2 separate regions of the Homo sapiens genome follow, and region 1 is linked to region 2. Evidence: fine-mapped expression QTL. Tissue or cell type: whole blood. Region 2 holds a variant in brackets; the other region holds the start of a gene. All regions are shown on one strand. Distances are from middle to middle.

Evidence for each region. PIP is the estimated chance that this variant, and not a neighbour inherited with it, causes the effect.
Region 1: it holds the start of GJB6, and the variant in region 2 is fine-mapped to the expression of GJB6 in whole blood (INTERVAL, PIP 0.97).

What each region holds. Positions count from the first base shown.
Region 1 is chr13:20,228,817-20,236,816 of GRCh38, forward strand. GJB6 (gap junction protein beta 6) reads right to left here and starts at 3,503. Exons shown (of 5, transcript NM_001110219.3): 1 at 3,378-3,503; 2 at 2,566-2,689; 3 at 1,882-1,991; 4 at 764-933.
Region 2 is chr13:20,498,603-20,508,906 of GRCh38, forward strand. The region is part of intron 2 of CRYL1 (crystallin lambda 1); the gene reads right to left. Among named protein-coding and RNA genes, the nearest start is that of CRYL1, 22 kb to the right of the region's middle. RefSeq lists enhancers at 3,356-4,352, 8,268-8,562. The variant CT/C (reference allele first, on the strand shown) is at 4,757.

The DNA.
Region 1 (8,000 bases), 270 kb before region 2:
GAAATATCTAGCTCTAAAAATAAGTAAACCATGGACTTTACTTTTGAGGATCCACACAGCATTGTGAAGATAGGTTGTTCTTTCCTTTTACAATTCAAATAATTTAGATCTATTGGCATTTGACTGCACTAATGAAATTTCTTGATTGTTTTAAAACTTCTTAGGAAATTAATCACAACTAGCTTATTTATCTATGCCATTATAATTTCACTAATGACAGAACCAAAACTAAAGCCCCCAAAGTTAGAGTGTAACCCCTCAGCATATTTTTCTAGATAGCTCTGTTCCCCTTTCAATGTCATTTAGCAAAAAAAAAAAAAAAAAAAAAAAAAAATTTTTTTTTTTTTTTTTAGACAGAGTCTTGCCCTGTTGCCCAGGGTGGAGTGCAATGGTGCAATCTCAGCTCACTGCAACATCTGCCTCCCCGGTTCTAGTGATTCTTGTGCTTCAGCCTCCTGAATAGCTGGGACTACAGGCATATGCCACCATACCTGGTTAATTTTTTTTTTTTTTTTTTTTTTTTTTTTTTTAGTAGTGACAGGGTTTTGCCACCTTGGTCAGGCTGGTCTTGAACTCCTGACCTCAGCCTCGGCCTCCCAAAGTGTTGGGATTACAGGCATGAGCCATCGCGCCTGGCCATCTAGGGAGTAGTTGATAGATCTGAGAACAGGAACATGTGCCTCCCAATTTCGAAGTTAGCTTTGGATAGTCGGGGAGTCTGCATAGATAAAAGGAAAACAATATCAAAGCAAAACAAGCAAACCTGAGTCCTGTTTCCAACGACTGCCAGTGTTTCAGACCCAAAGAATGAGGGCAAGATCCCTCTGCGAGGGTTTCAGACCTCCTTCTCCTACCCCACTGGAGTGCCTAGAAGCCAATGGTGCACAGTGATGATACGAATGTCAATCTTTGCTCGGTCAGTGAGGATGTCGCCTGTTGAGGGAAAAATAGTAGCTGTTGCCATATTCCTTTAACTCCCCCCCCCCCCGCCCCCCGCAATATGTCCCCTGAATAAACTTTGTGGGTAGTTTTTCTTCATTCCCAGAACTGTTATGAGGTAAGTTCAGAAATTGCCAGCTTCCTGATGCTCTATGCTTTGAACACACAAAATAATCAAAGGTGCTCTTTAGTAGGATCCTTTCCCTATCAAAATAACAGTAACACCCAATCTGAGGCCTCAAGCCCACTCCTTGAGCAAAACAAAAAGGGACAGGGGAGAGTTTGAGACACTGGCTACACCCTGATCCCCAAATCAGTGGTTTAAAAAAAATCTCAGACTCTTTCTTCAATCAGGAAGAATAGATTTCTTTTGTCTCTAGAAATCTCAGGTCATCCAAGGGACAACCTGATAGTTGATTTTTAAATTTAGTGACAAAAAACTTCAGCAACTGTCCTGATAGAGTAACAGCTAGTGATAACAATGGGTCAGGGATTCATATATTTCAAAATTAACTCAATAAAAATGAAACGTTTCTGTCTGTGGAGTCTAGATGTAAAAATGGAAAACTCATGCAATTACGTATGTTTCTTACATCATTTAAGAATTCAAAGAGTTAAAAATTAATTTCCATTAAGTTAAACTTTCCTTCTCTGGGTCTTGTTAGCAATATATGTTTGTTCATTCAAGCAAACCTGTGTCCTTTCCAAACATTTAAGCTCAACTAGATTTAAATGACCCTGGGAATAAAAATGGAGCAGGCCCTCTGGGGTTCCAGGTCTATGCTCATGCACTAAGCAACTAAAACAGAAATCATAACCTATGGCAGGTGGCCATTAGAAGGTTATGCCCTCACAGACCAAGAAGCTTGGGTCAGAAATCACTTTCCCACAATTTTATCCCATTTAACATTTAAACTAATATATGCAAACTGCTCACAGCACCTGGAATATTCAAATTGAATTAAAGATGCATGAAGAGGGCGTACAAGTTAGAATTTTTCTTTCGCCATACAGAAATTGTTTAGCCAGATCTTCTGTACTTCTTTTCCTTCCTAACACTCAGAATTCAGAAGAGAAGACATAAGAAAAAAAGCATAAAGTCATCATTACCTGTATCAGAATTTGTTTAAAAAACAACCAGTGGGGCAGGTGAACTGACCAGCGTCTTCCCAGCTTTAGTCACTGCAGTGGCAATGAGGCGCTCTCCACACCCCCAGTTATGTGACAGGCTAGAGCCCTGGTGTTCTCTCTTCAGAACCCCCCTCTCCTCCTTGGCAAGCTTCAAGCAACACCCCCAAAGACGCTGCTGGATCCAAACAACAGACAAAGCTCTCCACAGGAGCAGTTCTGAGCAGCACCCTGCAATTCTAAGGAGACTGCATGGGGGCAGGACATTTTCTTCTAGAACACTGGTTAGATTCTGCTAGAACTGGGGCAAGAAAATAGCTGTATGGCATAAAGTCTACTTGAGGGAAAAGAACAACCCGGCACGGTTACGTTCAATCAGACACTAAACAGAGTGCACGCCCACCCAGGGGACACTGAGGTCGCTGGGCCAGTGTCCCCGCCTGGTTGCAGGTCCCTAACCCCTCCGGGAGTGCAGAGCTGCGGGCAGGCCACACTCACCCTGACCCTTCCTGCTCCCCAGGAAGGGAGGTCAGCCCCGTTTGCAAAACACAGGATGCCCGTGACACCGGAGACAGGTCTTCTTCACCGACAGGAAGTGCCTTCTGGTGCCTGCACGTTTTAACTAAGATGTGTCGCCAATTACTTTTAATTACTGTCGTCCACGCTATTGTCATCAGCATTTCACAAGTTTCTCGGAAGCCCATCACGCAGCCCATACCCTGCGGTTCTCCGGGGACTTATGCATCGGCCCAAGTTGAGGGTTTGTCTGAACTGAAACCCGCATCCTAGACCTGGCTTTCTTCTCCCCAAATCCAAGGGGACACCCCGGTGACCCACAAAAGCTTAGAAAATCCAACACGCAGCAAATGAAACGGGGGAAAGGGGCACCGGCCCTCACTCTGGCCTCTTAGACACACGATATGAAACCTTCATAAAACCTGTTGTACAAGTCAAAGGGGACCACGCTGGGGTAAAAGTCAAACCAGTCCATCCTCGTTCCTCTGCGTACAGAGAGAGGGTCCAGCGCGGGCGGCGCCCACTGCCATCGGGCCGGGGCCGGGGCGCGTGGACAGGAGGGTGCGGATAGAGGCAGATCGGGGGCCCGGTCGCCCCACGTGCGGCCAGACACCCATCCCGGCCGCGCTCTGCCGGCTCTGATCCGGTGCCAGACAGGAGCGACAGGGGCGAGGTGGGGACCAGCCGCCGACCTCACCTGTTTTGTTTTCTTGGAGGAAATTCCTCCGCTGGGGGGCCGAGGTGGCACCGCCCGCTCGCCCCCCGCAAGACCCAGCCGGTCCGCGCCCGCTTACCTGCTCTGCGGCCGGCGGCCCTGGCGCGGGCTCTGCGCGGGGCGGCGCCCTTCGCTCCGGCTGGGCAGGCAGGTCGGGCTCGGGCGCCGCCGGCTGTCGGGCTCTCGTCGGGTTTCGGGTGAAGGCCCCGGCTCCCACCTGCTGCGCCTTTTAACCGCGCCCCACCCCGCCTCTGCCCTGACGCGGCTCGGGCGGGCTGCGGGAGGCGAGCGCTGTCACTCGACGAGCCCCCCGCCCCCACCTACCCGGGGCGCACTAGCCGCTGGGCGCGGACCGTCCCCCTGAGGAGCAAGGAGTGCAGGACCGGGGCTGTCCCTCCGGGGCCGGATGCGCAGAGCGGGGACCTTTTTCCCGTGGCGGGGGCGCAGGGTGGGGGACCCCTAAGAAGTGCACAGTGCGCGGGGCCCTCTTTCCGGCCCTTGGAGGGAACGGGGTACCGGGGATGCAGGGGGTAGGGCTCTCCCTCGGGAGCGCAGAGGGCGGGCCCAGCCCCCTCTGCACGGGTGCAGGTGTGGGGCGCCTGCTCAGGCCCTCGAGGGAACTCTTCCTCCCTAGTGCACCCGTGGGGAGCAGTGTGAGGGGCAGGCTGTGTTTTTGCCAGGACACATCCTCAGTCTTTCTGGGTGATCCAGCCTTCTCATAGCCCGCGGGGTGCACAGACCTCTCCTATAGGAGCCTGGAGGTTCTTTATTAATTAATGACCACTTAGAGGAGGTACAGGGGTTGTTTTTATTAATTACCTCCATCCTTTGAAGACTCCTCCGGGGAAGCGGAGCAGGCCTTCCTCGGGACAGTGCACCAGGAGAGACCACATTGCCTCCCCGCTTTTCAGTCAAGACTAGAAAGCTCAGGGCCAGTACAGGGAGTGGTGCAAGGGCTGGTGGGGTGGAAACGTTGGAAGCTATTTAGGCACCTGGCTTTACAGGTTCAAACCTGTCACGCATCGGACAAAAGATGTGTGACTTGCTTATTCTACAAAACTGTTCGGTAATTAAACGTCCCCACCTAAACCATATGCCACTTGTTGGGTCATATTCTCCCACGAAACAATTAAGATGTCTGTTAAAGGTCATGGAATTTGAGCCAAGACTTCATAAAAATCCGCTTTCCAAAATATTTTATTTGAGGAGAACAAGGTTCTTAAAGAATTTGCCCAAGTCAAGTTTTAAAAACTTTGGGGAGGCCCCTGAAATGGCCTTGAACTTGGAGAGTGGAGAGACACAGAAATCTCTAGGCTTTTTAAATTTATTTATTTATTTATTTATTTATTTATTTATTTATTTATTTTGACTAAGTCTGGCTCTGTTGCCCAGGCTGGAGTGTGGTGGTGTGATCTCAGCTCATTGCAACCTCTGCCTCCCGGGTTCAAGTGATTCTCCTGCCTCAGCTTCCCGAGTCGCTGGGATTACAGGCCCGCACCACCATGCCTGGCTAGGTTTTGTATTTTTAGTAGAGCTGGGTTTCACCATGTTGGCCAGGCTGGTCTGGAGCTCCTGACCTCAGGTGATCCACCTGCCTCAGCCTCCCAAAGTGCTGGGATTACAGGCGTGAGCCACCGCGCCGAGCATCTCTAGGCTTTTTTGTTAGACATCCTCACACTGCCCAGATGTGCCCTATGCGGTAAATCTTGGGTGCTCTGTCCTGCCCCACACAATCTAACTGTGGACTTCCCAGTCTTCTCTCCATTCCTCTCCCAAACAGATGCTTCAGCCAGGCTCAGCTGTTTGCATAGTAAAATAATTTTTCTAAGCAGATTGTAAACTTCTTTGGGGATTATAAACAGTTTAAGCTTTTCTTCCTCTTCTTCTTCTTTTGCATTTCTACAATACTAAGTACTTTGCTCATAGTATGTGCTGCTCCATGAGTATTTGAATATTGCTTGGCAAAGCTGAACCAGCATAGCAGATAGTCCTGGAAATAGCTTTTGCTTTTTCTAAAGCATGCCCTGTTCTCAATCCTGCACCTGATTCCATGCAGTACTGTGTCTGAGCATTGACATCCTGGACCAGTGGAAATTGTTCTAGGACTGGTGCAGGATAGAACTTTCAAACCAAAGTTGTCACAGAGAATGTGTTGCATTTGCTCATGTGTGCAAAAATGAAACCATCTCATCACTGTGTAAAATATCTCTTTTTCTGTTCAGGTTATCTATATTAGTCTGCATGGCCTTAACATTGAACACTGTCCTTCAGTTTTTGCTACTCATCAGACAGTCTTGTTGCAGCAGAAATTAAATGTGGACTGTATAAAACTTAAGGACTTGATGGGATGCGCATTTGAAAACTGAAAATTAGTTGTCTTAGTCCATTTGTGTTGCTATAACAGAATACCATAGACTGGGTAACTGATAAAGAAAAGAAATTTATTTTTCAGAATTCTAGAGGCTGGGAAGTCTGATATCAAGATGCTCGCATCTGGCGAGGGTTTTCTTGCTGTGTCTTCCCATGGCAGAGGTGGAGGGGCAAAAGAATGAGAAGATAGGGAAAGAAAAGAGAGAGAGGTGGGGGTGGAGAGAGAGGAAGGGGTTCAAACTCATTGTTTTTTCAGGAACCCACTCTCAAGATAACTAACCCACTCTAGAGATCACAGCATTAATCCATTCATGAGGGCAAAGCCATCATACCTCCTCACCTCTTAAAAGTCCCTCCCATCTTTCAACACTGTTTCATTGGGGATTAAGTTTCCAACACATGGACTTTAGGGGACACATTCAAACCATAGCATTCTGTCTTAGCCCCCCAAATTCATGCCTTTCTCACATGTGAAATACATTCATTCCATCCCAATAGTCCCCAAAGGCTTAACTCTTCCAGCACCAACTGAAAAGTTCAAATCCAGAGTCCCATCTAAATCAGATAAAGCTAAGACTCCAAGGCAGGCATAGCTGGCCTGAGGCAGACTCCTTTCCAGCTGTGAACCTGTGAAATCAAAACAGGCTATCTACTCCCAAAAGACAATGGTGGGGCAGGCATAGGAGAGATATTTTCATTCCAAAAGGGAGAGAGAGGCAGGAAGAAAGGGGTAACTGGTTCCAGCTACATCTAGAACCCAACATGCATGTGTTAGGCTGTTTTTGCATTGCCACAAATAAATACCCGAGGCTGGGTAATTTATAAAGAAAAGACAGGCCGGTGTGGTGGCTCACGCCTGTAATCCCAGCACTTTGGGAGGCTGAGGCAGGAGGATTGCTTGAGCTCAGGAGTTTAAGACCATCCTGGGCAATATAGTGAGACCTCATCTCTACTAAAAAAAAAAAAAAAAAAAAAAATTAGCTGGGTGTGATGGTGTGTGCCTGTAGTCCCTGTTACTCAGGAGGCTGAGGCAGGAGGATCACTTGAGCCTGGGTGATGGAGGCTGCAGTGAGCTATGATCTTGCCACTGTGCTCCAGCCTGAGCAACACAGTGAGACCGGTCTCAAAAAAAGAAAAGAAAAGAAATTTAATTCACTCATGGTTCTGCAGACAGTGCAAGAAACATGGTGCTAGCATCTGCTTCTGGTGAGGGCCTCAGCAAGTTTCCAATCACGTTGGAAGGACAAGGGAGAGCAAATGTCTCACATGGTGAGAGTGCGAGCAAGAGAAAAAGCAGGGAGGTGCCCTATACTTTTAAATAACCAGATCGCAAGTGAACTCATTGGTCACCAAGGGGATGGCACTAAGCCATTCATTAGGGATCCACCCCCATGATTCAAACACCTCCCACTAGGCCTCGCCTCCAACATTGGAGATTACACTTCAACATGAGATTTGGAGGGGACAAATACCCAAACTATATCAATGGAAAAAAAACATTAAGTCTTAAAACTGGTGAATAATCTCCTCTGACTCCCTGTCCTGCGATCTGGGCACACTGGAGTGGGGCTTGGACCCCTCAAGACCTCAGGCAGCCCCTCCCCTATGGCTTTGCTGGGATCAGTCCACCCAGCAGCTCTCAGAGGTTGGAGTCTCATGCCTGCAGCTTTCCCAGGTTGGAGTTGCACACTAGTGACCCTACAGTTCTGGGGGATCGGGGCTCCCCGGCTCCCATGCCTCACCTCTGTGACAAGTGTCTGCCTGAGCCCCTAGCCGGTCCAAGTCATCCTTTGAAATCTAGGTGGAGGCCACCATGGCCCCACAGCTTGTACATTCTGCATGTCTGCAGAGTCAGCACTACATGCATGCCACCAAGGTTTGCAGCTTATACCTTCCAGAATGGTGGGTCAAACTGTGGGGTGCTGTGCCAGAATTTGGGGAGCAGAGTCCCAGGGCAATGTAGGGCAGTGTATGCTGAAGTCCCACAGGCACCTCTCTGGGAACCTTGCCCTCAAAGTCTTAGCTTACCTTGAAGATCTCCGGGTAATGACCCTTCAGGGTCATTGTCTAATTGTCTTGGTGAATAGAAAGAACCTGGTTTCCTTCTATCCATCATCTCTTTAGCAGTGTCTTGGCCACCCTCAATAGTCTGTCGTGAACATGTTTTTTATTCTTACATGGCCAGGCTGAGAGTTTTCCAAATATTTCTGTTCCATTTCCCCTTTATTTATAAGTTCTGTCTTTATTTTACTTTTTGAGATGGAGTCTCGCTCTGTCACCCAGGCTGGAGCGCAGTGGCGCGATCTCGACTCACTGCAAGCTCCGCCTCCCG
Region 2 (10,304 bases):
TAAAATTAGCATTAACATTAATAATATACCATACAAAGGTAAAATTTGGTTTTCTCTTTTGAACAAAATTTTCATGTAAGAGATAAGAGATTTTTATTTACCTTTTCAGTAAAACCACAGAAGAAAACAAATAGAGGGAAGGAGAAAGACAGATTTAGCTGGCCTCATGCTGTCTTTACTAGGTCTTAATGTTTAGGAAACTCAGTCTCCTATCAAAGAGAAAATGTTTTTGTATTATAATTTTGGCCAAATGAATGACTGTTTTATAGTGACTTCTGATCCTATTTTGTGATATCAAGTGTCTTAAAACCTTTGATATTTGACAGACTTCCCAACAGCAAAATATCAAGTTCTAAATTCTCTGACCTTAAACTAACTTTTTCAGCTATTAGGTTCCCTGAAGTCCAAGAGAGACATATTAGGCATATTAGGCTTATGTGTTATGTTAGAATTATTTAAGCCGGGCATGGTGGCTCTTGCCTGTAATTGCAACACTTTGGGAAGACAAGATGGGTAGATTGCTTGAGCCCAGGAGTAAAGAGACCAGCCTGGACAACATGGCAAAACCCCATCTCTACCCAAAAAATACAAAAATTAGCTGGGTGTGATGGCGCATGCCTGTAGTCTCAGCTACTCTGGAGGCTGAGGTTAGAGGATTGCTTGAGCCCAGGGGGCAGAGACTGTAGTGAGCCAAGATCGCATCAGTGCACTCCAGCCTGGGCAACAGAGTGAGACCCTGTCTCAAAAAAAAAAAAAAAAAATGTGGCCGGGCGCAGTGGCTCATGCCTTTAATCCCAGCACTTTGGGAGGTCGAGGCGGGTGGATCGTGAGGTCAGGAGATCGAGACTATCCTGGCTAACACGGTGAAACCCCATCTCTACTAAAAAAATGAAAAAAAAAATTAGCCGGGCGTGGTGGCAGGCGCCTGTAGTCCCAGCTACTAGGGAGGCTGAGGCAGGAGAGTGGCGTGAACCCGAGAGCAGAGCTTGCAGTGAGCCGAGATCATGCCACTGCACTCCAGCCTGGGTGACAGAGCGAGACTCTGACACACACACAAAAAAAAATGTAGGAAGCATTGTCAAATCTGAGATGTTGTTTAGCTCCCTTTGGTTATGTTTATATAGATGTGTTGTCAATGTGTTCCAGGATTATATTAGATTCTTATAATTCTGATATGTCTTAATATGTTGTCAGTAATAATTATGATTTTCATGTTAAATTGTTGTATCCCACAGAAATAACCAAATTTCCTTGTCAACAGTGTCTTTAACTGTGGTTGTCCTAAGACTTTTGTCATCCACAATTGTTGTTTTGTGTTGATTCTTCACAAAAAGTGACTTATAATCAGCTACTGTCCAGGGCTTGTTTCTTTGGGGGGAGTTCATGAAAAGGACTCTTGAATACAAGTTTCTGATAACTTCGGAGATTGTGCCATTGGATGTGAGAGAAAACTTCCAGTGCACTAATGGAAACACTGATGTGTTCACAAAGATGGCTAACTCAACATGAAGCAGAGCAGGAGTTGTCTGCATGGACGGAACTAATGGAGGACTGAAATAACTTTTATGGCTTTTTTGTTTGAAATATTGCTCATTCTTTTTGTTTTTCAGAGTCTGAAGAATTTTTTTCTTTTGAGTCATCCTTTAAGTATCTTTTAAGTATAGTGAGTAGAGTATACTTTTGTAAACAGAATTTGAGGCATATTTCTCTAATTTATCCAGAATTTATAAACTATTTGTGAGTATTCTTAATTCATGGCAATGTGTTTGTTTGCATACAGTTAATAACAACATGTTTTCTTTGGTAATGGGACACAGTTGAAGGAACTGGTTGTTTTCCCAGGGCTTTGACTAAAATGGCCTTGAGAGAGGTTCTAGCAAAGCCAATTTAGGAGAGCCTATGAGAACAGTGATTCTTGTTCCATTTTGTGTGGGTAATCAGGCCAAGTATATGGGACTGAAGCTTATTTTGCAGGTAGATTGGTCCTGCTGTGATGTCTTTGTGAAAGTGGTAGACTGGAGAAAAAGATTGTGTTTCAGAAGAAAAACTTTAGTATTAGATTAGCCTTTGATTCCTGGATGGTCATGAGGTCTTCCATGGTATGGAGCTGCCCACAATGCCTCTCCTCAGCAGGAAGGAGACAGAAAGATGGATGACCAGATGCCCCATGGTTGAGGAATCTATAAACAAGGGGAGACTGAAACCCACTCAATTTTTTCAGTAAACATAGAAATTGATACTTTTTGCCTTAAAGCTTGAAATTTCTATTGGTTTTATCTGAGTTCTTTCCTCAGGAAATTACTTCAGGCATCTCAAAAAAAAAAGTGTTGAAGAACTGAAACTTACCAGATCATCACATCCATACAATGAGACTCCAGGCCCCTCATTCACCATGATTGCTTCCTTGCCCCCCCCTAGTTCCTGTTTTCCTACACAGTGCTACATTTCTTTCCTGCTATATAAACCCCTGATTTTAGGTGGTCAGGGAGATGGATTTGAGACTGAACTCCCATCTCCTTGGCTGCAGCAGCCGATTAAAGCCTTCTTCCTTGGCTGTACTCATCATTTCAGTCATTGGCTTTCACTGCTGTGAGCAGCAGCACCTAGACCAAACTCTTGGTGTTTTGGTAACAAAACCACATTATGAGGAAGGTATTATTATGTCTCCATATCCCAGATGAGGAAACAGATTGAGTGAGTTACCCAGCTATGAAGGCTGAGCCAGATCTGACTGCAAAGCTCACAGTCTGGGCCGCTGAGCCACACTGGACCCCTCTGCACTGCTCACTTATTTTCACACTGTGCTGCCTGCTTTCTATCTACAGTATGACTCCATGTATAATGCAGCTTCCTGAGGAATAAAGGGCATGGCTAACATTTCTTTCAGAAATCTCAGTGCCAGCCTATAGTGAACTCCCAAGGGGATTTCTGGCAGGGTCTTTGGCTCCCACCTATTCCTGAAGGTCTGAGGATCTGAAGAGCTAAAGATGGGGAAGAATGGGGCAGACATGGAAGATCAGGTAAGATTAGCTTAAGGAGGTGAGTCTACCTCATCTCCAGCCAACAGAAATTCTAGCACACTGGAGGCAAAGAACAGAGAGCAGTGAGGAAATAGAAAGGCCAGGGATTGCTTCCTTATGGGATGGCTGTGTTGTGCTGTCTGCTTTGACGTTGACATTGCTGTTGTTTCTAGGCCCTGATTATGCAGAGGCAGAGGGCTGAGCCAGACTCCACCCGACTCCAGCCCCAGGGATCACTCTAACTCCAGACGGGCAGGTTAAGTTGAGGCTGCACAAAAATCTTTAATTAAGTTACTGCAATGCAAAAGAGTCAGAAGACAGCCCAACCACACAGTCCATGTGGCACGGTGATAGTGTGTGGACACTAACAATCATGGCAGGTGTTTCTGAAGTTGGGAAGAGGGCAGAACACTCAAGTTTTCATTAAGAAGAGTAGCTCCAGACTTCCGTTTGACAGCACAATGTTTTAAAAATCTGGCATGCCTATCTCCAAAGACTACCTCCAGTTTGCCCAGGTCTCCACCCCACCCCATTATTCACACCCATTAGCCACCCAGCCCCCTTAGACTTCGGGATCTGCAAACCTTGTAGTGAGGCATGTGAACTTAAATGCACTGTAGGAAGAAAGAAAACTACCTTCTGTCGCACAGGAGGGCTGTGGGTCTGCCTGCCTGGATCCACGCCACTGTGGCCCATCCGGGTCTCTGCCCTCCCCGCTTCCCCCTCCTCACTCAGGTCTCCTCCCTCCGGCCGGGCGAGGTGGCTCACACCTGTAATCCCAGCACTTTGGGAGGCCGAGGTGGGTGGATCACGACATCAGGAGATCAAGTCCATCCTGGCTAACATGGTGAAACCCCATCTCTACTAAAAATGCAAAAAAAAATTAGCTGGGCGTGGTGGCGGGCGCCTGTAGTCCCAGCTACTCGGGAGGCTGAGGCAGGAGAATGGTGTGATCCCGGGAAGAGGAGCTTGCAGTGAGCCGAGATCACGCCACTGCACTCCAGCCTGGGCGATAGAGCGAGACTCCGTCTCAAAAAAAAAAGGTCTCCTCCCCTCCTCCCTCCAGGCCAGTGGTAACACTGGGATCTGGGTAGCAGGGAGACAGACAGGGGAGGAGAGGGCCTGCTTAAGTGTCAAGGCAATCAATTTCACCAAAGTTTACACTGGAGTATCAAGGCCCGGTTAAAAAATGGGGTACTTTGGTTTCCTGTTCACCTTGTTGGAAACCTCACAGGGAGACAATGGCCAGTCAAGGTAGGAGTCACACAATTCTTGAGTCCAATCCTTGACAGCACCTACACCTTCATAGCCCAACCATGACTGCTAATGTGCATTGGTCTAGATGCACAGCACACAGGATCATGCCGGAAGCACGCAGGATCATACCGGAAGCGCACGGCCTCAGAATATGCAGCAAGATCACTCGGAATCCTGCCGCCCAGAGTCAAAGTATTAATATTTTGGCTTCTCCCCAATACTATGGATATATAATTAGCATATATATGACTTTTACAAATCAGATAAAACAAGGCTATTTTTATTTGGGAAGAAAAATAAGGCAAATGAAGCAATTATTTGATCTGTCCTAATGACAGCTAAGTGATAGCAGGATCTGTGAACTCACAGGGAAGTCAGATTGAACAACCCGGCTGAACCCGCAGCCACTGCCATGAACTTTGGGCAACAGACACGGGCTTTAATAATTTTGGCTGGCTCAGCTGGGCTCACTCATGCGG[CT/C]TGCAATGAGTAGTGGGTTGTCTGGGGGCTGGTCTAGGATGGCTTCCCTCATCTGTTTAGCAGTCGGTGCTGTGCTGGATGGTGCTGGCTGGTAGCTGGGCCACACACCTCCCGCTGACTAGGCTGGGCTGACCAGATGAGGAGGGAAGAAGGGTCCCCAGCAGGAAGCGAACGAATCTCAATGCACATGCACTTTCCAGGCCTTCTGCTGTGCATGCCACATGTGCTAATAACCGACTGGCCGATGCAAGCCCGTGGCTAAGCCCAGAGTAAGGGGGTGAGAGGAGCAAAGTCACAATGCACAGGGGAGTGCAGACAGAGACGGGAACAATTTGTGACCATACTCAGTTATTCTGGCCAACAGTATGTGGGAAAACTAAAGGTTTCAAATCAGGAGAACAGACCAATCCAGATCAAAACACAGTTCAAGATTAGGCCAGGGCAGAGACCTAGGTAGCAAGTTAAAAACAGGTCAGAGACCCAGTTACTGGAAATGCCTGCGTCCAAGCACAAGAAATTCAGTCACTTAGGAGACACAGTACAGGCCTACCTAGTTTCAGAGATCACTGCTGGTGGTTTATTAACTCCTAGTCCATTCAGAAAGATGATTCACTTTTAGGTGGAGCTGGGTGCCAGGGTGACCATGTACAGATGGTGGAGAAACCAAGATCGAAGCGTACAGGCCCCTAAAGATGGCGATTTCAGATAGGGACTCAGGCCAGACAAGGCAGTGTGTTTGGCTCCTGGAGTTGGGGTGGTCACCAAGATGTCAACACAGCCTAAGTCAGGGCGGCCTGGTCCCTTGAGGACTAGAATGGCCCACCTGCTACGTGGAAATGAGTCTAGCTCCAAATCTTAAGAACTAAAACACTCCTGATCTGTAGGTCCGTGTTACAACTTTGTTTACTTGATTTGCTTTTCTTTTTTCTTTTCTTTTCTTTTCTTTTTTTTTTTTTTTTTTTGAGACAGGGTCTCGCTCTGTCACCTAGGCTGGAGTGCAGTGGTGCAATCTTGGCTCACTGCAATCTCTGCCTCCCACGTTCAAGCGATTCTCCTGCCTCAGCCTCCTGAGTAGCTGCGATTACAGGCACCCACCATCACGCCCAGCTGATTTTTTTGTATTTTTAGTAGAGATGGGGTTTTACTACGTTGGCCAGGCTGGTCTCGAACTCCTGACCTCAGGTGATCCACCTGCCTTGGCCTCCCAAAGTGCTGGGATTTGCTTTTCTTCTTAAAACACAGCTTCATCCTCTAAACTTCTTACTTGAGACCTAATGCAGGCCAAGCACTGGGCATACAATGGTGAACAAAGACAAAGCAGTAAAGTATCTGCTAATGAGGTTCTCCAAGGTCAAGCGACCTTCTATTATGAAATGTAAACATGCTAAGTTTTAAGTTTCTTATTGTGCCACCCTGTTAGAAAAAGATTAGTCTCAGATGACAGCTTTTTGTTTTTCAAGTTCACTAAGATCCCTTGGCATGGTATGAGTTGTGATAATTTCTTTTATCTTCTAATGTTTTAATATTTTTTTAAATCAACTTCCCCCCGTTTAAGTTCATTTTTACAGGTTCAGAATCCATATGTACCATTTCTACTATTTAATACCATTAGTTTTTAATAGGTCTAACACACACAGAATATTCATGCAGATGTAGTGAAATTTCAACCACGTGACATTTTCTAATATGAAACGTTAAAAAAGAATCAGAATATGGCTGGGCACAGTGGCTCACGCCTGTAATCCGAGCACTTTGGGAGACCAAGGCAGGTAGATCACCTGAGATCAGGAGTTAGAGACCAGCCTGGCCAACATGGCAAAACCCCATCTCTAATAAAAAATACTAAAATCAGCCAGACGTGGTGGCACATGCCTGTAGTCCCAGCTACTCGGGAGGCTGAAGGAGGAGAATTGCTTGAACCCGGGAGGCAGAAGTTAGAGTAAGCCAAGATCGTGCCACTGCACTCCAGCCTGGGCAACAAAGTGAGACTCTATCCCACCAAAAAAAAAAAAAAAAAAAAAAATCAGAATATGGGAAGTGGGCCAAACTGCAAGGTGGAATAGACGGTGAGAAAAAAGTGTATGAGGAATATGACTGGAAACATTACCTTCGGAGACTCTAGAAAAGGTTCCTGTGACTCAGTCAAAACAATTGCTGAGCTAATAGGTTCAGGCTAGCAGGTTCAGGCTCTGGGGACAGGAAACGTGCCTGTTGCTTATTTCTGCGTCCATAATGGCTAGTACAGAGACCACACGTCACTGCATAGTGAGGGACACTGGGGGTGTGATGTATGGTCTGTCCTGAGGGAGCCCACGACCTACAGTGGTAGACAAAGACCACAAAACAGGGTGTCAGGGAAGATGCCTGTGGACACAAGCTATTTGGACCCAAAAGTCAATGCAACCCGATTGGAAAGATACATCATTTATACTTCTTGACAAAAGGATTAAGTTGGTTTTCCTTACATTCCTTTTGCCTGATATGTGGTCAGGGACATTTTAACCTTGGGGTTTCTGAACATCTAAGCACCACAGGTCATACACGGTGTTGCTGTTGACAAGACTTCACAATCATTAACCTCCTGGTCTCTGAACTCATTGCACTGACCAAAATACTTACAAAAACAAAGTTTGGTTTCAGTCCTTTTACCTTGGACTCTCTGTGCGGGAATGGTACATTTGAAGATCTTGCGATGTAAGAAAGAGAAAAAGGTAGCTTTATTTAAAAGTCACTCAAGACTAAGAATCCAGTACTTCCTAGGGGGTGCAATATGACACAACATAACTGGATTTTCCTGAAGTTATTTGCCAGTTATTTGAGAAGGAAGAGGTAGTTGGTCACAAGATATCCTAAGCTTCCCTTTTCCTGCCAAAGAAGTACAACCAGTTCTGCATATTTAACTCAGCTTAAATGTGTGTGTTATAAAAATAAAGTACCTGCTACTGAGGAAAGATTTGTATGTACTCCCTTAAAATCCTAGGTACATAAGAATTCAGTACATTTGCTTCTTCTAGAATATGACTGCTAACAGTCATAAGTTATTTAGGTTTTTCTGGTTCAAAAATCTTACAGACTGTATCTAAAAGTTAAATCTAATCAGGCACCAATGATATTAAGAAATACAGCTCTTAATTAAGCATAGTAGGATAACAGGAAAGCCTTTAACCTGGTTAAAAAAAAAACAAAAAAACTTATCCACAACCCTCCATCATTCAGCATCATCAGTCCTGATGCCTGAAAGGACTTTAAAAATCTTTAATGATGCATCTAAAAATAAGGCCTAAAACACAAATACCCAAGAAATAGAACAAAGGACTTTCAATTAGGAACCGTGGGATTTTCTCTTAATTACAAGTGGGTTGGAATTGGCTTTACAGGATAAAAGATGAAATGATAACAGAATTGAAAAGTCTATGGTAGCAGCGAGCAAACTACAGCCCACAGGCCAAATCTGGCCCATCTCCTATTTTTATATGGCCTGTGAGATAAGGATGTGATATGGTTTGGCTGTGTTCCCACCCAAATGTCATCTTGAATTGTAGCTCCCATAATTCCCATGTGTTGGGGGAGGGACCTGGTGGGAGATAACTGAATCACAGGGGCAGGTGTTTCCCATGCTATTCTCATAACAGTGAATAAGTCTCACGAGATCTGATGGTTTTATAAAGCGGAGTTTCCCTGCACAAGTTCTCTTGTTGGCCACTCTGTGAGATGTGCCGTTCACCTTCAACCATGATTGTGAGGCCTCCCCAGCCGCGTGAACTATGACTCCATTAAACCTTTTTCTTTCTTAAATTGTTCAGTCTCAGGTATGTCTTTATTAGCAGCATGAAAACAGACTAATACCGGATGGTTTTTACATTTTTAAACAGTTGGGAAAATTTTAAAATAACATTTTGTGACTCTGAAAATTATACGAACAAAGTTCGATGTTAATCCATAAAGTTTTATTGGAATACAACCACCTCTATTTGATTATTGATTGTCTATGGCTGCTTTTACTTTACAACGAACGGCTGAAACAGAGACCATATGACCCACAAAGCCTACAATATTTACTATCTGGTCTTTACAGAAACAGTTTGTCAACTCCTTGTCTGGAGTCCACTTGGGGCTGGCTTAAAGCATGACCTAATCAGAGATTCACGGGTCTCCTCTTCCCTTGGAGGTACTCTCCTTCTCCAGTACTGGGCCAGCTATGAAGCTAATGTCTCTCAGCTCCAAACCTACCTGTTGCATATACTGTCACCAGAAAACTGATTAAAAGTCCACGCCCAGGCTGGGCACAGTGGCTCACACCTGTAATCCCAGCACTTTGGGAGGCCAAGGCAGGCGGATCACAAGGTCAGGAGATCGAGACCATCCTGGCTAACACAGTGAAACCCCGTCTCTACTAAAAATATAAAAAATTAGCTGGGCGTGGTGGCGAGCACCTGTAGCCCCAGCTACTCCGGAGGCTGAGGCAGGAGAATGGCATGAACCTGGGAGGCGGAGCTTGCAGTGAGCCAAGATCGAGCCACTGCACTCCAGCCTGGGCAACAGAGCAAGACTTTTCATCTCAAAAAAAAAAAGAAAAAAGAAAAAAAAAAGTCCATGCCTGGCCAGGCACAGTGGTTCACAACTGTAATCCCAGCACCTTGGGAGGCTGAGGTGAGCTGATCACTTCCAGACAAGCCTGGCCAATATGGCGAAACCCTGTCTCTACAAAAAAATACAAAAATTAGCTGGGCGTGGTGGTGCACACCCCTAATCCCAGCTACTTGGGAGCCTGAGGTGAGAGGATCAACTGAACCCAGGAAGTGGAGGCTGCAGTGAGCCAAGATCACACCACCCCACTCCAGCCTGGGTGATGGAGACAGACATGGTCTCAAAAAAAATAAAATAAAATAAATGTCCAGGCCTCCTGAAAAGCCAGGATAGCCCTCAAGGACAGAAGGAGAAGCATTTTTTAGCAGCCACCATTTCCAAAGTGGAGCTTGCTATGCTCTTTAATACACAAATGTGGGAATAAAAGATGAATTTAATTAAGTAGATGTAATTTACTCAGGAAGACCACAAATTCCTTAACATTCTTTACAATTATAAAATTAACGGCTTTTTTATTATCAATAAATTACTTCCTATTGCTCCCTAAATCACCTCCATAAAACCAAATATTAAGCTGTTTGTGTTACATTTCCTGTGATGCCTTTTAAAAACATTTTGGGCTGGGTGCAGTGGCTCACGCCTGTAATCCCAGCACTTTGGGAGGCCAAGATGGGTGGATCACGAGGTCAGGAGATCGAGACCATCCTGGCTAACACAGTGAAACCCCGTCTCTGCTAAAAATACAAAAAAAAATTAGCCGGGCGTGGTGGCGGGCGCCTGTAGTCCCAGCTACTCAGGAGGCTGAGGCAGGAGAATGGCATGAACCTAGGAGGTGGAGCTTGCAGCGAGCAGAGATCGCTCCACTGCACTCCACTCCGGCCTAGGTGGCAGAGCGAGACTCCAAAAAAAAAAAAAAAAAAAAAAAAAAACAAAAAAAAAAAACTGACAACAACAACATTT